Linked DNA regions of Homo sapiens. The protein of the gene in region 3 interacts with the protein of the main gene of each other region in a biochemical or structural test. Each region holds a gene or a part of one and is shown on either strand. Other genes may lie near its edges.

The links. The genes of interacting proteins can lie anywhere in the genome.
Region 1: the proteins of FURIN (region 3) and PACS1 form a complex in vitro, tested with the Homo sapiens proteins (one study listed by BioGRID).
Region 2: the proteins of FURIN (region 3) and SERPINB8 form a complex in vitro, tested with the Homo sapiens proteins (one study listed by BioGRID).

The regions. Positions count from the first base shown.
Region 1 is NC_000011.10:66,213,246-66,220,271, forward strand, and holds part of PACS1 (phosphofurin acidic cluster sorting protein 1), read left to right. Parts: intron 1-2,873; coding exon 2,874-3,018; intron 3,019-3,274; coding exon 3,275-3,366; intron 3,367-3,449; coding exon 3,450-3,530; intron 3,531-6,500; coding exon 6,501-6,560; intron 6,561-7,026. UniProt on the Homo sapiens protein: Coat protein that is involved in the localization of trans-Golgi network (TGN) membrane proteins that contain acidic cluster sorting motifs.
Region 2 is NC_000018.10:63,973,055-63,980,080, forward strand, and holds part of SERPINB8 (serpin B8), read left to right. Parts: intron 1-5,244; 5' UTR 5,245-5,254; coding exon 5,255-5,422; intron 5,423-6,746; coding exon 6,747-6,884; intron 6,885-7,026. UniProt on the Homo sapiens protein: Has an important role in epithelial desmosome-mediated cell-cell adhesion.
Region 3 is NC_000015.10:90,864,664-90,871,593, reverse strand, and holds the start of FURIN (furin isoform 1 preproprotein), read right to left. Parts: upstream 3,007-6,930; 5' UTR 2,883-3,006; intron 543-2,882; exon of another isoform or gene 444-542; intron 55-443; exon of another isoform or gene 1-54. UniProt on the Homo sapiens protein: Ubiquitous endoprotease within constitutive secretory pathways capable of cleavage at the RX(K/R)R consensus motif. Mediates processing of TGFB1, an essential step in TGF-beta-1 activation.

The sequences.
Region 1 (7,026 bases), on a different chromosome or scaffold from region 3:
GGGCTGAATCTGCTACTATCATTTTTTTATTTTGATGCACAAACTTATCAGATTTGGCCCATGGGAGCCCCTTCATGCCAGCTTTGAGTCCTTAGTAATATGTCTCATCATTCGTTACATCCTACCGTACTTTCTGGTACAAAACATTTCAGGCTCATCTTGTACTTTCCCTGACCCAGCTCCCAGAATGAGCAGATTCTCTGAGGAGCCCTGGTTCTTTTCAGTAGAGGATGGTGTTCAGAAACCAAGATCTGGGTACCAGGAGTGCCCATGTCCCCAACTGGGTGTCATGCACTCCCACTGAGCAGACAGAGCTGAGAAAGATCTGTCTGTATGCACACATGTGCTCGTGTCTACACACGTCACAGCTCCTTTCAGGTCTAGGTCCAGATCTATCTAACCGTGAGCACACATCGATAATTTCAGTTCCAACCCAATGCCTTTTTATAGCTTTTCTTTCTCCATGTTTCTAATTCCCTTTTGGAATGGTAAGAAGTCAGGCTGTGGGCTGGGCGCAGTGGCTTACGCCTGTAATTCCAGCACTTTGGGAGGCTGTGGCAGGCGGATCACGAGGTCAGGAGATCGAAACCATCCTGGCTAACACGGTGAAACCCCATCTCTACTAAAAATACAAAAAATTAGCCGGGCATGGTGGCGGGCGCCTGTAGTCCCAGCTACTCGGGAGGCTGAGGCAGGAGAATGGCGTGAACCCAGGAGGTGGAGCTTTCAGTGAGCCGAGATTGCGCCACTGCACTCCAGCCTGGGCGACAGCGCGAGACTCCATCTCAAAAAAAAAAAAAAAAAAAAAAAAAGGCTGTGATTATTCTCAATACATGTACTCATTGGTGCAGCTCCCTGTGTGCCAGGCAGTTCCTCTCAATCCTAACAGGAAGAAGAAAGCAGCCGCTAATCTGTTTTTAAAATTATTTCTGTACTTTAGTAAATTAAATAGGAACAATTTTGTGGCCATGATAGAAAATTTGAGATAGTTCCAGCCCGTCTTTCTGTCCTGCTCAGTCAGTGTTTGTGTCAGTGTGGAGACGGGGCAGTGAATTCCCGCCAGCACCCACTGCCCCTGCTACGCCAGGCTCTGCCATTCCCTGTAGACTGGGCTCCTTTTCCTCATTGCCAGTGACAGGCGACCACCACCTATAGGCCTGGCCTCACCCAGACTCAAGAGCAAGTTTCTCTGTGAAGGACTTACACTAAAATTAGTCTTAGAGATTAGCAACCATTTCTTTCCTTCCTTCCTTCCTTCCTTTTTCTTCCTTTCTTTCCTTTCCTTCCTTTCCTTTCCCTCCCTCCCTCCCTCCATCTTCCTTCCTTCCTTCTCTCTCTCGCTCCCATTCTTTCTTCCTTTCTTCTTTTTCTTTTCTTTTTTTTTTTTTTTTCCTGAGATAGAGTCTCACTCTGTCACCCAGGCTGGAATGCAGTGGTGCAATCACAGCTCACTACAGCCTCGACTTCCTGGGCTCAGGTGATTCTCCCACCTCAGCCTCCTGAGTAGCTGCAACTACAGGCATGCGCCACCACACCCAGCTGATTTTTTTATTTTTAGTAGAGACGGGGTTCCACCATGTTGCTCAGGCTGGTCTCAAACTCCTGGACTCAAGCAATCTGCCCGCCTCAGCCTCCCAAAGTGCTGGGATTGCAGGAACAGGCTACTGTGCCCGGCCAAGCAACCATTTTCTTTTCTTTTCTTTTTTAGATGGAGTGTTGCTCTGTGACCCAGGCTGGAGTGCAATGGCACAATCACGACTCACTGCAACCTCTGCCGCCTGGGTTCAAGTGATTCTCCTGCCTCAGCCTCCTGAGTAGCTGGGACTACAGGCGCCCACCACCACACCTGGCTAATTTTTTGTATTTTTAGTAGAGACGGGGTTTCACTATGTTAGCCAGGATGGTCTTGATCTCCTGACCTCATGATCCGCCTGCTTTGGCCTCCCAAAGTGCTGGGATTACAGGTGTGAGCCACCACACCTGGCCCGAGCAGCCATTTTCAATCTTTGATTGTTATCTTTAAGCACATGGCCCTGACCAGCACTTCTGGGGATAATTTTAAAGTTAAGACCTTAGGCCAAATGCAGTGGCTCACGCCTGTAATCCCAGCACTTTGGGAGGCCAAGGCAGGAGGATTGCTTGAGCCCAAGATTTCGAGATCAGACTGGGCAACATAGTGAGACCCCATCTCTACATAAAATTTAAAAATTAGCCAGGCATGGTGGTGTGTGCCTGTGGTCCCAGCTACTGAGGCTGAGGCGGGAGGATCACTTGAGCCTGGGAGGTCGAGACTGTAGTGAGCTGTGATCACACCAGTGCGTGCCAGCCTGGGTGACAGAGTGAGACCCTGCCTTTAATAATAATAAAAAACAGGCTGGGTGCAGTGGCTCACACTTGTTATCCCAGCACTTGGGAGGCCGAGGCGGGCAGATCATGAGGTCAGGAGTTTGAGACCAGCCTGGCCAACATAGTGAAACCCTGTCTCTACTAAAAATGCAAAAAATATTAGCTGAGCGTGGTGGCAGACGCCTGTAATCCCAGCTACTTGGGAGCCTGAGGCAGGAGAATCGCTTGAACCTGGGAGGCAGAGGTTGCAGTGAGCCGAGATCACGCCACTGCACTCCAGCCTGGGCGACAGTGAGAGACTCCGTCTCAAAAATAATAATAATAATAATAATAATAATAATAATAATAATAATAATAATAAACAAAGTAAGACCGTGAAGCAGTAGGACAGTAGGCATGGATTTGAAAGTAAGGAAGAAAACGTATCAGCAGAATGCTGTTGCCCCTGGGGTCTTGTGCATTCCTTGGCTGTGTTTCTCCAGGTGCCTCTGTAGTAACACGCCTCCACCACCTCCCCTGGCTCCTAGGTGATGCAGCATCCTAATGAAGGCGCACTGGTGCTTGGCCTACACAGCAACGTGAAGGATGTCTCTGTGCCTGTGGCAGAAATAAAGATCTACTCCCTGTCCAGCCAACCCATTGACCATGAAGGAATCAAATCCAAGCTTTCTGGTAAGAAGCATGCAGCATCTGGAGACCCTACGAAGAGGGAGCCCATCCTGGGAAAGGTGAACAAGACAGTGCCTGAGATGTTCCTGGGCAAGAGACCTTTAGAGACCCCTGAAAGTAAAATGTGGCTTCGGCCCTGGCCCTCCCCTCCACCCTGGCTGTGTTTCCACCCAAAGAGAACCATTGATTCCAGCCCATCGAAGTTTCTTAGGCCAGATCTTCCCATTGCAAGGTTATCTTACTCAGGTGTCTGTTGCAGATCGTTCTCCTGATATTGACAATTATTCTGAGGAAGAGGAAGAGAGTTTCTCATCAGAACAGGAAGGCAGTGATGATCCATTGCATGGGCAGGTAACTTTCTGTGGTCCCTCACATGGCGTGTCCAAGAAGCTCCTGGGGTTTCCCACCCTCATTCTGTCCCTGTACCCACTTAGGACTTGTTCTACGAAGACGAAGATCTCCGGAAAGTGAAGAAGACCCGGAGGAAACTAACCTCAACCTCTGCCATCACAAGGGTGAGCCTCAAAGGTCTGGGGAGTGGTTGGCTAAGATTTTCAGTCTGGGGGTAGGTTGGCAGCAGCATATTCAGGCCTAGTGGAGACTTCTTAAAATCAACACAGGGTCATCCCTTCAACGATTCCAATGAACGCTCTATATCCTCACCACCGCCCAATTAGACTCACTGTTGTTGGGAACCACAATTACTGATAAGAGTGTTATATCCTTCAGGTTATCGTCAGATAGAAAAAAGGAGGAGAACCCTTCTTGTAGAATTCAGAACAGATAGTGGTCCATCAGGGAACAGACCGCCTCCCACCCACTCCAGTGGCTGCTTCATGTCACATGCTGTCCTCTGCAGCGAGAAAGCCAGCTCCCTCTAGGAGTAGCACTAGTTTTAATCATGTGCTGAACTTAGGCAGAGATAATAGGCTAGTCATGGGGTGCTCCTATGACCCTGGGCTTGCTAAGCTTTAATTACATCAGATATCGTTCCTGCCTTAACGGATCCATAACCTTGGAGACCAGGTGCCTTTTGATACTTTTCCTCCATAAGACTTCCTCAAGAGTCACTGTTTTGATGACATTTGAGTCCTGAACTAAGAAGCTAAAAACCTGAATTCCTAGGTGGTCTTTGACAGATTCTGGAGTGCCTGCATGAAGTGTGGGAGGGCCAGAAGTGCTGGGAGCATTTCCGAAGGGGAATTCACAGCTCCATTTACCCAGAGGCATCCTGATTCTCCCCAGTGCAGAGCTAGCCTAGGGACCAAACCCCTGAGAGCCGAGATGCCCACCCCTTCAGGGATGAAACGGAGGCCAGATCACTCTCCCATCACAATGAGGTGTCACTGGACTTCAGGTAAATCCGTGAGACTGTGACCTGGATTTCCCATCCAGTCAGCAACTAGGGAGCGGGAGGACTGTTTCCTTGTCCTCAGGTATCCACCTCTCAATTGGTGCTCCAAATGGTCCCCATGAGGTGTGTCACCAGTACCCCAAATGCTTGACCTCCATTGCACTCTGGAAATAGGGAGTGGCTGTAGGATCTCTCTCTAGTCAGCCCCTACTGCTGAGGCTTTCTTTTTCCTGCTCTGTAACCAGAAAGCGGCCCTATTTTCTTCCCAACGGGTGCCCCCAGAGCTTCATAAGTCACCTCTTCCTACGTGGGGTCTCTTCCTTGGCATGACCCTGGCACATGACTGGAGTTCAGTGCTCCTGCTAATGTATACTCCCCCAGAGGTGTTTCTTTTTAAGCTGCAGGCACTTTCCAGTTCTATCCCAGAGACTCAGTGACCTCCCTTAGTGCCTGTCTCCTCTGTGCATGCGCATTCTTCTCTCCCACCAAGAACACAGATGTACTTGACCTTCTGTGAACATGTCTCATGCTGCTCTGTCACTGGGAGCTCGACTTTTTTTCTCTGCTGTGAATGCCCTTTCTGCCCTTTCTCTGAAGACCTATCAGCCTCGCAAGTTCATTGTTTTCATCCCCAGATGGCGAGTCTGTCATTCAGGCAGGAAGTACATACAACCACAGGCTAAGCATCGTGCCCAGAGACAAAGAGATAGGGCCCAGTCCATGCCATCAAGCGCACAGTGTCTAGTGACACCACACATTTCAACAAATAATTACAGCCCAGTAGGACAGGTGCCATAAGACAGAGCTTTGCAATGACACCAGGGGACTGTGGCCACCTGTCCCAGGAGTGCCAGGACAGCTTCCCAGATGAGATGCTGAGAGATGGGTTTTTTAAAATAAAACTTCACCAAGTGGATTTGGGGAAAATTTTTATTCAAGGCAGAAGATACCCTATATAAAGACCCAGTACAGTGCTGTGGCTCACGCCTGTAATCCCAGCACTTTGGGAGGCCGAGGCAGGCGCATCACAAGGTCAGGAGATCGAGACCGTCCTGGCCAACATGGTGAAACCCCGTCTCTACTAAAAATACAAAAATTAGCTTGGTGTGGTGGCACGTGCCTGTAATCCCAGCTACTCAGGAGGCTGAGGCAGGAGAGTCACTTGAACCAGGGAGGCAGAGGTTGCAGTGATCCGAGATCACCTCACTGCACTCCAGCCTGGCAACAGAGCAAGACTCCATCTCTAAAAAAAAAAAAAAAGGCCCAGTACAACAGCATGCAGTTTTTCCCAGGAACTCAAAGCAGTGAGTTTCCACTTGACTATGGGGTGTGAAGGGTCAAATAGAGAGATAAGGCTAGAAACAGGCAGACCCAGGCTTCGGACACGTACAGGCCTGACTGCTGAGCTCTGTTCAAGTAGTGGAGGCCAATGAAGACTTCTAGTCGGAGGGTAGCATGAGCAGGTTTGCACTCGGAAGGACCACTGTGGGCTGTGGAGGGAGAAAGACCAGAAGCAGGTGGGCAGGGTATGAGATGTCAGCTGAAGGCTGTTGCTATGATCCCAGAGAGGCAAGGAGAAAGGCCTGACTGGAAACAGTGGTGTCACAGATGGAAAAGGGAGGATCTGGGGTAGCTAGAATGGGCCTGCGGGGAGAACGAGAAGGAGAGACTCCAGGCGTAGATGTTGGTTCAGGTGTGTTGGCGACATCAGTAAGAGGATCGGGGTGCAAGGAGAAGACGGGACGCTGCGTTCCACCGTGGAGGTGGTAAGGCTGAGGTGCCCGCGCTGTGCATGCGCAGGTAGGAGTCAGCAGTGGGCACTGTGAATCCGAAGGGCAAGAGAAAGGGATGAGCTGGAGACCCACATTTGGGAGGTGTTGGGGCACAGGGGGGTGGAGGACCTGGGGATAGACATTCCTTCTCCCCGCAGCTGCACCCAAGGCCCAGGAGCTACACTGGAATTTGGCCTGTCTTCCTGACAGGCTTTGAGTGCCAAGGGCAGAGACCAAGTCCTCCAGTCTTCGTGTCTTCCCACAGCTCGTCATGAAAGTGGGCTCTGGTGGGTGTTTATTGACTTGAATTGACCCCAAGTGGACGTTGCTGAGAACTGTCATGCGATTTGTCCCTACAGCAACCTAACATCAAACAGAAGTTTGTGGCCCTCCTGAAGCGGTTTAAAGTTTCAGATGAGGTATGGCCTCTTACTCCCAAGGTTAATGGTGAGTAGAATTCCCCGGGTTTCACCCAGCATCCCTGGAGTACACTCTGTATTGCCACTGAGAGTCAGGATTCTAGGATTAATATTCCTGCTCCCCGTGGCATACCTGGTAGAGCCCTAAGGGAGAGGGTGGCTAAGAAGGACTTAAGCAAGCAGAGGAGAGAGAGGCTATGCACACAACGCAGGGCAGCACAGCTACGCCCGACCCTTGGTGATGCGCAAGCCTCTGGCATGCGATACAGGGACAGACCCAGCGGATGCTGCTGCGGTTGTCACTTAATTTCCCCTCTTATCCCACGGGAACATCAGTGAGCAGCAGCTTGTGAGGTGGAAATGTCCTTGTTGGTCAGCCCTGGAATAACCAGGAATGGGGCTGCTGAGAGAGAAGCAGTCTTTTCCCTGGGCTCCGGGAGGGGCCCGTTTCCACAGGCCTCTCAGT
Region 2 (7,026 bases), on a different chromosome or scaffold from region 3:
GGAATCGCCACACTGTCTTCCATAATGGTTGAACTAGTTTACAGTCCTACCAAGAGTTTAAAAGTGTTCCTTTTTCTCCACATCCTCTCCAGCACCTGTTGTTTCCTGACTTTTTAATGATCACCATTCTAACTGGTGTGAGATGGTATCTCATTGTGGTTTTGATTTGCATTTCTCTGATGACCAGTGATGATGAACGTTTTTTCACGTGTCTGTTGCCTGCATAAATGTCTTCCTTTGAGAAGTGTCTGTTCATATCCATTGCCCACTTTTTGATGGGGTTGTTTGTTTTTTTCTTGTAAATTTGTTTGAGTTCTTTGTAGATTCTGGATATTAGCCCTTTGTCAGATGGGTAGATTGCAAAAATTTTCTCCCATTCTGTAGGTTGCCTGTTTACTCTGATGGTAGTTTCTTTTGCTGTGCAGAAGCTCTTTAGTTTAATTAGATCCCATTTGTCTACTTTGGCTTTTGTTGCCATTGCTTTTGGTGTTTTAGTCATGAAGTCCTTGCCCATGGCTATGTCCTGAATGGTATTGCCTAGGTTTTCTTCTAGGGTTTTTATGGTTTTAGGTCTAACATTTAAGTCTTCAATCCATCTTGAATTAATTTTTGTATAAGGTGTAAGGAAGGGATCCAGTTTCAGCTTTCTACATATGCCAGTTTTCCCAGCACCATTTATTAAATAGGGAATCCGTTCTCCATTTCTTGTTTTTGTCCGGTTTGTCAAAGATCAGATGGTTGTAGATGTGTGGTATTATTTCTGAGGCCTCTGTTCTGCTCCATTGGTCTATATCTCTGTTTTGGTACCAGTACCATGCTGTTTTGGTTACTGAAGCCTTGTAGTGTAGTTTGAAGTCAGGTAATGTGATGCCTCCAGCTTTGTTCTTTTTGCTTAGGATTGTCTTGGCAATGTGGGCTCTTTTTTGGTTCCATATGAACTTTAAAGTAGTTTTTTCCAATTCTGTGAAGAAAGTCATTGGTAGCTTGATGGGGATGGCATTGAATCTATAAATTACCTTGGCCTGCCCAGCTTTTAAAGCCAGCTTCTCTGGAAAGTCTTTCCAGGATTCTGTAGAGGTTTTCTTCTTATTATTTATTTATTTACTTGTTTTTTTCTGAGGATTTCCATAGCACTTTCAAAATTATCCTGTTATAGAGCACCTGACTGGCTTGAAACTACGCATTTCCATATGTGTGTCTTCTTTAGGGTGTAAGCTTCTGGGCAGTGATTAACGCATTTATTTTTCATTTTCTCCTCCCAAAACAGGTAGTGAACATTCTACATAAATGCTCTTTGAATAAACTCACTTTTGGATGTTGTATGGGGATGGGGGAGTGGAGGAGGTAGTTCGTAGGTATTTGGGGCTCCCAGGAGGAGGACAATATCATATACTTGGAAACGTAAGGCTTGCTTTTGAGGCTGACTCTCACTTTTTCTGTGAGTCCTGTGGACAGTATTTAATTGCCTCTGTCTTTGTTTGTTTGCCTGAAAAGGAAAAACTAGTTTAATGCCAATTTATTTGGTTGGCTGGAAATAAAAACTTCTGATTCCTGTGTTTTTATAACACAATCTAATTGTGGCATTGGCACCTAAAGTATTATTTTGTATTAAAATTAATTGCTTTTTAGAAATATTGGGTAAAGTCCATTTTGTTTAAAGTTCCAACCCTTTCAAAAGCTATAAAGTCCAAATGAGATTGGAACACCAGGAAGACAGGGGGAAGAGTCATTCTGTTACCTGGTTTTCTCCCCTGCCTGACTTCTGACCTGAGCAGAGGCCAAGGGGGTGCACTTGTGTGTGAGTGTGTGCACATGTATTGTGGCTGCAGGGTAGATATTGATGGGAAATACCACATACTGACCAGCACCTGAGTGTTGAAAAGGAATGGAAGTGGGGACATGAGATGAAGGAAGAGGAAAGATGGAAGAAATCAGAAGTAGCAGTTTGCAACTAAGAGCAGTTAAAATGTAAAGATGAGATTGATGCAATAGTTCAGTTCATTCAGAACTATTGAAACTATTGATTCAATAGTTCAGACAGGATGATTAAACACACCTACACACACACACACACACACACACACACCCCAACCTAAGTTCATGCTTGCTTCACCCTGAGTCCAAAGCTCTTATGCTAAGGTTGGATCAAATCCAAATTTATTTGTGTCTCTGTCTTACCCAGTTTACCCAATTCTCTCCATCTTTAAGTTTCTTTGGTGCCACCTTCTGGTTGGCCCAGTTCTATGAAGTCTGAATATTCCTTCCTGCCTCCCAGTCTCTGAAATGTCCTCGAGTGAAAGATGAGGTTGTGGAGGACCCCGGGACTTGCCTGCACATACTACTCTGCCTTCCAACATCTGCAGACCCTAGTATAAGCTCTGGAGAGGTCTTATGATGTGAGGATAGTGAGAAACAGGAATATTTTGTTCCATAATAAACAACCTCTTAAGTATAGAGTACTGTTGTGCAAATTATGTCATGATTGTGTTTTCTTGGTTCACATTTATTTTACTTAGTTTTCTGAACCCTAACCATAACCCTAACCCTACTTGTTTTTTTCTGAACTGCACTAACATTTATTTTAAACTTTAAAGAATTTGCACTGCTTTAGACTGTTGTTCTATATTTAGAGTGTTGCCTTTACACTTTAAAAAAATATATAAGCTCACTTTTTTGTTTAAGTAAGAGACACCCTTCTGTTGAAAAATATCTTAGGAGGAAGCGAAATATCTTAGGAGGAAGCAAAACATCCAACAGTGAAGATACTTTGGTTAATACAGTTGTTCCCCACTTCCTTGTCTCAGCCACTCAATTCCCCTTTCCTCCTGTGCTCTAAGAGACCCAGAAGACCTGTCCAAGACCCCCACTAAGGGCATACAGTTTCAGAGCTGCTGCAACAGGCACTTTGTAGGCCGCTGGGAAACTGGATGAGGCTCCATCTGTTTATAGAAATGAACACATGCACGATAATTTATATCTCTAGATAGAGTTTCCAGGACTTTTCATTTTGCTCATTTGCTAATTTTCCAAACTGGAGCATATTTTTCTTGTTTGACTACATTTTTCAGTTAAAATTATACATGTTTATGAAAAAAAGGATAATATAATAGAAAAAATATCTGTAGGATCATGAGATTATAGATAATGATTTGTCCTTTTATTTTCCCAAATGTTCTCAATTGTAAGAACAAAAAGGCTGAGGGAAATTGAGATGAGTTGGTGAACTGCAATATTTTATGAAATAGCCCACGTTTTTATAGGGTTTAATAGATATAAACAACAATGTAGGACTTATAATAATGCACTAAAATTATAATAATAGTAAACTGTAATAGCTTTTTAGCACTTTAAGCAAGGTGCCCCCCTAGATTAGGCTCCTACCTTCCACAGAACTGGTTGATAGGGATGCTATCTTTCTTGATGATTACATTTCAAAAGGATGGCTTCCAGGTCTTTGAGAGACTGTCCTGGGATGTAAAACTAGCAAGAAGCTTTTTTAAAAGATTTACATCTCAAAGGGGCTGATAAAGAATTTACAATGACAAGTTCTCTAAATAAAATGCTTTAAGAAAAAGGAAGAAAGGGCCTAGAGGCAGGAGGAAGCCTGTTTAGTTTGTTTATTTAGTCAAGTTTAGGTTGTCTAAAGTTAATTCAAGCTGAGGGGAATGTTAAGACCCTCTTAGCCAGGAGGATCCAAAAATCAATGCATCTAATTAAAAGTGCTCCCTCGATGACAAGATTAGGGCTTCATATTTTATATCCATGCCTATGGACTTTCTTTGCAACTCCGTAACCCAGTTTCAGCAACTCTTGGGGAAAATGGGGCATCTTTTTGGAGTCACTTTAAAAAGTAATTTTTTTTTTTTTTGTCTTTCCAGTAGCCTCATATTTCAGGCCAGCCTATCTCAAACAAACCCTCCAAATTTGGTGAAATGTATCTAGCTGTTTTCACAGGAAGTGATGACAGAAATACAGTTTTTATTGATAAAGAATTACATATATAAGTTTTAGAACATTCTTTATAGATTATATTGGAGACATTAAACTGAAAGATAATTAGCAGCAATAGGGGGATTTTGTGTAATGATTAAGAATTCAGGCTCTGGAATCAAACTGTGGGTGCCAGGCGTTTATGACTACCTGAGGGTTCTGGAATGAGTTACTAAACCTCACTCAGTCTTCTCATCTCTAAAGTGGGGCAATAACTATACTGACCTCAATGTGTTATTGGGTGATAATGGAAAGTGCTGAAAACAGTGCCTGGCACCAAGATCTTTTTTTTTTTTTCCTGAGATGGAGTCTCACTCTGTTGCCCAGGCTGGAGTGCAGTGGCGTGATCTCGGCTCTCTGCAGCCTCCACCTCCTGGGGCTCAAGTGATTCTCCTGCCTCAGCCTTCCAAGTAGCTGGGATTACAGGTGCCCGCCACCATGCCTGGATAATTTTTGAATTTTCAATAGAGATGGGGTTTCACCTTGTTGGCCAGGCTGGTCTCGAACTGCTGACCTCAAGTGATCTGCCTGCCTTGGCTTTCCAAAGTGCTGGGATTACAGGTGTGAGGCACCACACCCGTCCGCACAAAGACCTTTTGGCTGCTGCTATACCAAGGGAGGAAGTAAGCAGGTGTTGCAGGGTGTCTGTGCCCCTGTTGCTAAGAGGGATACAAGTCATAGGCCCTGAGATTGGCTATTTTATGAATAAACCAGTGTTTTTGTTTCCTATTGGTGTGATAACACTTTACCACAAATTTAGTGGCTGAAAAATGACACACATTTATTATCTTATGGTTCTGGAAGTCCTAAGTCCAAAATGGTACAGCATAGCAATGTTATTTTCTGGAGTCTCTAGAAGAAAATCTGTTCCTTGCCTTTTCTGGCTTCTCGAGGAGGTTGCATTCCTTCATCAGTGGCCCCTATCCCTCTGACCTCTGCTTCCGTCCTCATGTCTCTGTCTCTGACTCTGCCCCTCCTGCCTCTCTCTTTTAAGGACGCTCGTGATTCCATTAAGCCCACTGGGATAACTCAGGATAATCTCAGATCTCAAAATACTTAACTGAATACCATTTGCAAAGTCCTTATTGCCAGGGCAGATCATGTAGTCACAGGTTTTGGGAATTAGGAGTGGAAGTCTTTGGAGGGTGGTTCTTCCACCTACCACCTCAGCGTCCACTGACTGGGGGATGAATGACTGCGTGGCTACCGGAGTCATTGGCTTATGTGCTTTTCCCTGCTGTGCCTTTGATGCAGACCTTCTCTGATGGATGACCTCTGTGAAGCAAATGGCACTTTTGCCATCAGCTTATTTAAAATATTGGGGGAAGAGGACAACTCAAGAAACGTATTCTTCTCTCCCATGAGCATCTCCTCTGCCCTGGCCATGGTCTTCATGGGGGCAAAGGGAAGCACTGCAGCCCAGATGTCCCAGGTATGTGTGCTTGTCACAAAGGAAGGAGAACAGTGTGTTTCCCTTGTGCTTCCATACAGCTGTCTTTCTGTACTTTTGCTCTAGCTGAGGCCTGTGGAGCTGGAGGTAGAAGGAGGAGCAGCTCGGCAGTGGAGAAGAGCAGAAAGGGGTAGAAAGGTGAAATGTGTTGGACAGATCATCTCCTCTGATGTTTATGGGAGAAGTCAAGCCATAGAGTTATTTTCTCTAGATCAGATCATCAATACAGTCTGGCAAATTCACATCTTTGATAAGTAGGATAAAGTATAATTCTGTCCCACAAGAAAGCAAAATATTCCAATTTTGTTACATTTTAAACTTTTGCTAACATTATATTTTTAATAGACATGTGGGTGCGTAGATTAACTTTTTGTTAAGTGGGTTATTTTAGTGCATGATTATGCATCCTAGAAGAGGAATGTAACACAAGTGTGGACTTATATCTTCTGGAGTGATTTGAGGAATATATAATCTGTTTGATTCAAAATGGTGATGTATGACCTTATCTACAAACGAGGTGTGGGATAATGCTTTAGGAACAGTTCTCTGACTATTGGTGAAGATGTCCCAGATAATTGCCAAATGGATATCATTTTGCCACCAATATCAGGAGTGTATAGACAGTCTCCTAAAATGCACCCAGGGACCCCAGTTGACATCCTTCTGTGGTTGTTTCTTTCAACTGATTGGAGGAGTGAGGCTTTGGACTGGGGGTGATCGAGAGATATAGGAATAACCTTAATTCTCACTCTGACTTGACATTTAATTTATAATATGGTCTGGAGAACTTCTGTAAAATTGCAGATGAAACATTTTTAGTTTTATTGCTGCTTTTGTTTGTATTACCCGAGTTGTAATTCATCCCAGTTACTTACTTTTTTCTGTTCTGCCTTCCCCCTGAATTATCGCACACTGCCTTGCTGGCATGAATAAATTTGCTAGACTAGTGGTTCTCACCTGGTGGGTGGGAGGTAGGGGTCGGTGGGTGAATTTTTCCTTCCTGGGGACCCTTGCGAAGACCTGGAGTTTTAGATCCCATAACTGAGAGGTGCTACTGACATCTAGTGGATGGAAGCCAGAAGTGCTGCAAAAATCCTACAATGCTTATATGAGACAAGGAAGTGTCCTGGCCCCAAATGTCAATGCTGCATTGCCCACGTTGAGAAACCCTGTGCTAGACAATTAGGCCAAACCTTTTTAAAGTAGGATCCTGTGTGGTTTTTTTAGTACAGAGGTTTGTTTGGAGAAAGCTCTTTGGGAGAGTATAATGGCAGCGTTAAAAGTCAGTGTTGGTTTCTGTTCCCAGGCACTTTGTTTATACAAAGACGGAGATATTCACCGAGGTTTCCAGTCACTTCTCAGTGAAGTTAACAGAACTGGCACTCAGTACTTGCTTAGAACTGCCAACAGACTCTTTGGAGAAAAGACGTGTGATTTCCTTCCAGTAAGTAGTATTCACATATTGATGACAAAGAAATTGAAAGTAAGTTAGACTACAGAAGAGCAGATAATAAAGTATAACTGTACTGACTTAAAACGTGCTTGGAATTACACTTCTGAAATTACAATTTTAGATTTTATGATGA
Region 3 (6,930 bases):
TGGCGGGGAAACTTTTCCAGGCGACCGCCGCGGCGGCTCGGGCGCCCCTCGGCCGCCCATGCCGCCCGGGCCCGACTGCGGGCCCGCGTTCCCAGCGCCGTGGGCCCCAGCGCGTCCGGCCCCGCGCGGCGGCCCTGCGGGGCCTTCTGGGGCGCCCGCTGCCTCCGGCTCCTGGTAGGGGCAGGTAGGAAGTGGGGCAGGCGATCCCAAAGTCCTCGCGGCCGCCCGGCGCGTCCCTCAGGCCCCGCTGCCGTGCCCCCGCCCCCGGGCTCGGCTCTTCGCCCCGCGAGCTCCCCGGGAAGACGGCCGCGGAGACCCGAACTCGGAACCAAAGGGAAAGGCTTGGGGGAGGCACTCCGAGCCCTGCCTCAGCCGGACTCTTGGGGGACTGGCCCTCTCCGTCCCCCGCTTCCCCACTCCTGGGCGACGAATTTGAGCCTGACCGGGTTAAGTGCCCAGGGACGGCGGACCTGGGGTCCTCCACTCCCAGGTCGAGGGAGGACTGCACGGCGGCAGGACCAGCCTCCTCTTGGCCTACTGTTAGAGGAGTCACGACTTCGTCTGCATTTGTATAGACAGGTGGATATATGAGCAGAAGTAGCCCACCTCCTTTTAATATTTTTAGCTTTTTTTTCTTTTTAGACACCAACCGCTTGCCAGGCACCAGGCCAGTCACTTTACATTATCTCCTTCTTATGTACATGATTTAATCCACATAATCCTTTCAGGCTGAGATTATTAATCCCATTTTACAGATAAGGAAACTGAGGCGCACAACGTTTAAATAATTTGCGCAAAGTCCCACAACCAGCAGACCTCAGATCCTGCAAGAGACTGGGGTGTTTGGCAGAGCCTGAATCCAAGCTACTTGCAATATACCAGCCGGAGCCTCTCCCTCCCTGGGCCCTAGAAAACGTTTGTGCTACTTGGCTGAGGCCGACGCTGCTTGAGCTGAGAAAGAAAAGAAGGAAAATGTGGCCAGGAGCTTCCCAGGCTGGGTTATTCCAAGGTCGCAGAGTAGCCTGTGCCCATCTCTTCTCGCTCCCTGTGAGATAACCTGGCTGCACAGGATCAGCCTGTGGCCTCCTTAACACAGGTTCCCGGGTAATGGGAAAAAAAAAATCCACTGAGTGTTTTCTATGAGCCAGGCACCATTGAGAGCTCTTTTCCTGTGTCAACCCGTTTTATCCTCACCACATGCCCCATGAGGTGGGTACAGTACATTTTCCTTTAAGTACCTTTGATGTATCACTGTCTGCATTTTATAGAGGAGGAAACTGAGGCCCAGAGAGGTTAAATCATGATAATTCTTAAGGCAACTGGTGAAAAATCAATCAGCAAACCGGTTCAAATCCCTGGGGCACTATTTTTTGCTGGGACACCTTAGACAAGTTAATTTCTCAGGGACTTCCTCAATTTACCCCTCTATAAAATGGAGATAATATTTAGTGAATGGGATCAGGTACGATTCGGGCACCTTTACAAACACTGCAAGAACTGGAAACTGGAGGAACAATGCTGGGTCCTCAAAGTTGAGCGGGAAGATAAGTCCAGTTGGCCTTGTCCCAAAGTGGGGACTTCCCCTCCGCCAAGGAACTAAGACTTGTAGGGGCCACACTGGGTAGCGCCAGCCACAGTTGGGAGAACAATACTCCAGCAGTCAGACTGAGGCAGGAAGTGACTCACGCTTCTTCCTTAGGCTGTGAGCAAGAGAACTCCATTGAGGGGAAACAGGGACAGGGCTGGCCCCACCTACCCACTTGTCCTCAGGCCTAGAAGAAAGGTCAGCCCAGAAAAATAGCAATACTTGCTGCTTCAGGTGCCCCACCCATCCTGGAGACTGGCCCCAGGGGAGCCCGCAGTGGGTCTTTGGAGGGGGAGGGGCTAGCCTAGGCTCAGATGACTGCCACCCAGGCAGAGGCGGTGGGAAGTGGAGCTTCCCAGTTTCTTCCAGCCAGCTTGCCTCTTCAATCTGCATAAGGCAAAATTCTTTAAAGTGGGTTCTCAGAGGTGCCTCCCTGAGAGGGAGGAATGAGGACAGGATTGGGCAGTTGAGCACCTCTCTCTGCTTCACCCAGAGTGTCTCACATTTTAGGGTTTCACATGAGATTGTATTTTACAACAATTCTGCTGCTAAAAAGAATTTGAAAGCCACTCTCTGTGAGACTTCTCTGGAAAAAAATCCCATTTGACCACAACTGGTGACTTCTGCCTTTATCTCATTGCAACAAGTCCTGTGGGCAGGTATTGTTCTCTTTATCACTCTCAACTGGCCCTGGAGCCCAGGTCTCCTGACCTGGGGCCCTAGGGGCCCAAGGTCCTCTGGATCCCACCTTACCAGTTTTACACAGCAGTTAGCAGGACTTGGGCATGTGACAGAAGTCTGGAGATGAGTGAGAGGAGCAGGGCCTGATGGGTAAGTGGGGGCTGTAAAGGGGCTCCATTTTCCCAGCAGGGCTCTGGGAGGAAGAGTCCAGCTAGGCCTCTCTTTATCCTTGATTTGGGGCTAATCCAGAGAGGCTCCTGAGAATCACATAGTCCTAAATCCACCCAGTCATCCTGACTCCAAGCACTCCTGTTGTCTCCTTGGGGTGCTCTGGGAGTCTTCTCTGAAATCTCTGGTCCACCTCAGGCACAGCAAATAAAGCCTTCGGCAGCAGCACCCACACCTAGTTGTAAGCAGAATGTCTACACAACATTCAGACGTGCATAGAAGGGTGCACAACAAAATTCCATTGGTGTTCTCTCCGAATGAAAGGGTCACATTTGCGATCTTTGTTTTCTTCTTTTTGCCTACCTGCATTTTTCAGGAATGTCTACAAGAACTCCTAAAATAATTAAACCTTTAAGTCAATGCAAAATCGAATAAAGCATGTCCATACTTCACCATCCAGCTCCAGAGCACCTGGGATTCATCCTGGCCGCTGCTGCTTCCCCGCCACTCACTGCAGCTGCAACAGTCAGGCTCCTATCCCTTCACAGGGCGGGGCCCTTCCAGTTCTGGCTAAACCACTTTGGGAAAACCTTCTTTATATGACAGGCAAACAGGGTGTCTGTGGGTGGGGGGAGGAGCTAAAAGTGATGTGGTGGTGACATATCTGGTCGCACTGGAACTGGATCCTAACATGGCCAGCCAGCCCTTCTCATTTTCCTCATTTATTGGGGTGGGTCTGCACTTACCTTCTGCCTGGCTTTGCTGCATCCCAGCCACTGGCTGACTTAATGACTTCCTTCCGCCAGCTCCAGCTCCTTGTGTTCTGCCTTGCCTTCCATGGCCAGCCAGTGCTGCCACAATTATGTACCTAATAAATGCTTTGGGTGCAGTCTCGCCTGGCAGACATTCATTGAGCAGCTGCTGAACGCTGGGCTCTGGTGCCCCATAGCTGGGTCCCTTAGAGCTTGTCCATAGGAAGCCAGAGACCACCTCTCTAGTAGGGTTGCATGGAGGTACCTGGGACACACCAGGGTCTTCCTCAGTCTGCGACCTCCCTGGCCTTCCAGCTTCAACAAGCCTGCTGCCCATCCTTCTCTCTCTCGATTCAGAAATGTGAATCACTCAATCCTCATAGTTTTTTTTGTTTGTTTGTTTTATGGGTTTGTTTTTTTTTTTTCTAGACAAGAGTCTCGCTCTGTTGCCCAGGCTGGAATGCAATGGCCTGATCACAGCTCACTGCAACCTCTGCCTTCTGGGTTCAGGCGATTCTCATGCTTCAGCCTCCCAAGTAGCTGGGATTACAGGCTTACGCCACTCGTATTTTTTTTTTTTTTTTTTGTATTTTTAGTAGAGATGGGGTTTTGCCATGTTGGCCAGGCTGGTCTCGCACTCCTGACCTTAAGTGATACACCCACCTCGGCCTCCCTAAGTGCTGGGATTATTAGGCGTGAGCCACCACGCCCGGTCCCCTTGTTGAGTTTTCAATCAGTTTGTCATCCTGAACAGGGTTTCTCAACCTTGGCATTATCAACATCTTGGGTCGGATAATTCTCTGTAGGGGACACTGCACTCTACATTGCAGGATGTTCAGTCGCATCCCTAGTCACTAAACATTAGCTGCTAGTAGCATTCCCGCTCCCATGATGACAACCAAAAAGATCTCCAGGTATTGCCAAATGTCCCTTGGGAGACAAAAATCTCTCCCAGCAAAGAACCACTGTCGCAGAATGAGGAGTGGGAACGTCACAGGATGGTGGTTAGTGTGCCAGGGTTCGAGGCAGCAAGAGTTGTCTGCTGGGAACTAAGCTCTGAGACAGCTAGCAGTGAGGGAGAAAACTCCCAAACTTGAAACTGCCCAGTATGCCAGCACAACAATGGGCCGTTTAGTGATCAGGGCAAACAATCATGCATCCTCATGACATCTGAGATCACTTTCCATCGTGTTGGTGATAATGCTGAATCAAGGAAAGGATCAATCATGTTGATCATACTCCATTTTCTAAGGTGGGGAGGTGTGTGAGCCCTTGTAGCATTAAAGACGTATTTGGAAAACAGATCAGTGCTTGCTTGGGGAAGGGGGCAGGGAGGGGCGGGAGGAAACTTTTGGGAATGATGGACATGTTCATTATCTTGATTGTGGTGATGGTTTCATGGGTGTGTCCATATATCAAAACATATCAAGTTGTACACTTTAAATCCATGCCGTTTATAGTGTGTCAGTTATACCTCAGCAAAGCTGTTTTGAAGATGTGTTGTTTAAAGTTTTAGTGCTTGAAGGGCATTATTTTGAAAATTCACTACTGTGGAGTAGTCCATTTCTTTGCTGAATAAATAAGGGGTCACTGTAGTACTTAAAAAGAAAACAGGAAGAAAAAACAAACAGAAGAAGAAGAAGAAAAGCGATCATGGGCTGTAAGGTCGTCCTAGGCAGGGAAGGAAAGGAATGGCGTGAAGAGTTGGCTCAGTCGCCCCTGAGTGTGGCCCGGAGAGCCTGTCCTCTGGCCTACGGCAGGCCCCAGAGAGTCTTTCCGTTGACTGATGCCATCAAATCAACATGTCTGGAACGGTATTATCAGGGACTTGGGAAAAATAGAATGACAAATGTGCTGGCTGCCAGGAAAGGAACAGATGAGTCTGGAAATTATAGGCTCCTCCACAAACTTTAATCCCTAAAACAAACATTGCTGGGGAAAAAGTCAGTTAATACCTGGAGGAGTGTGAGTGCTGTCCTTCAATGGGGCACGGCACACCTGGGAGCAGAGAGCATTTACAGAAGCCAGACACCGTGTGCCAACCTGTGTCAACAGGCTCATGCTCAAGGGGCTGCACGTGGCAGCAGGGAGCACTGCGAGCGGCAGTGAGGGGCCCTCTCTGACGGTGCAGATGCTTTTTGGCTGATGGAGACCTCTACGGAGGTTCTCAGGAGCCCCTCAGCGAGGCGGGTGAGCAAGGAGAGGGGCTGTGATAGCGATGAGTTATATGTGAAAAGAAAAACTGCTTTTGTGGAGGTTGATTGTGCACTGGGCATTTCATTCACTCATTCCTCAGATACTCATTGAGTGCCTGCTGGGTGCAGGACCTCTTCCAGTGCTTCAGTTATAGCGAGGGAAGCAGGCAGTTCACAGGTGAATAAGCCAGTTTATGAGAGAAGTTCAGATCATCCTAAGAGCTCTGGAAGAAAATGATAAAGAAGGTAATGTGGGAGTGCCTGGGGAAGCGGGAGGGCTGCTATCCCTGGGGTGGTCAGGGAAGACCTCTGGGAGGAGGTGATGTTTGAGCTGAGGCTGAAAAAAGAGGCAAAAGTGTAAAGATCTGGAGGAAGAGTGTCCCAGGCAGAGGGAGAGGCAAGGACATGGGCCTGGGGGCATGAGCTTATGCACTTGGGGAGCAGACACTTCTTGGAGCATGGCCGAGAGATGAGATGAGAGGTAGGTAACGGGCTGGATCACAGAGCACTTGCCAAGCTGGGTCCAGATGTTGAATTTAATTATCAGAGCAATGGGCTCTGGATTCTCAAAATTCTTTTGGAAATTTGACTGATTTACCCTTTAATAAAAATTATTTATTTATTTATTTAGAGATGGAGTCTTGCTCTGTCGTCCAGGCTGGAGTGCAGTGGCGCAATCTCGGCTCACTGCAACCTCCACCTCCCTGGCTCAAGCAATTCCCCTGCCTCAGCCTCCCGAGTAGCTGGGATTACAGGCACACACCACCACACCCGGCTAATTTTTTTGTATTTTTAGTAGAGACAGGGTTTCACCATGTTGGCCAGACTGGTCTCGAACTCCTGACCTCAGTCAGTCCACCTGCCTCAGCCTCCCAAAGTGCTGGGATTACAGGCGTGAGCCACCGCGCCCAGCCATTTTATTTTTATATTTTTAAATTTAATTTAAAAGATGGGCTCTCACTCTGTTGCCCAGACTGGCCTCAAGCAATCCTCCTGCCTCCCCCTCCAGAGGTGCTGGGATTACAGGCGTGAGCCACCGTGCCCGGCAAATTTACCCTTTTTAAAGGCTCCTCTGACTACCATGGGGAGTAGAGATATGGGGGTTCGTGTGGGAACCCACCACAGCCCGACGCAGGAGGCACCATAGGTGACCCTCCTGATGTGAAATGTAGGGGACTGGCTTGGGGGAGTCCAGTGACTTTTTTTTTTTTTGAGACAGTGTCACTCTTGTCACCCAGGCTGGAGTGCAGTGGTGCGGTCTCAGCTCACTGCAGCCTCTGCCTCAGCCTCCCCGAGTAGCTGGGATTAGAGGCATGTGCTACCACGCCCAGCTAATTTTTTGTATTTTTAGTAGAGACGGGTTTTCATTTGCTACGTTGGCCAGGCTGGTCTCAAACTCCTGACTTCAAGTGAACCACCTGCCTCGGCCTCCCAGAGTGCTGGGATTACAGGTGTGAGTCACCGCCTTGAGTGACTCTATAAGCGCCCAGCCCCTGAATGACTTACAAACCAGTGAGCAGGTGGTAGGCTCCTGCGCAGGCCTGGGAAG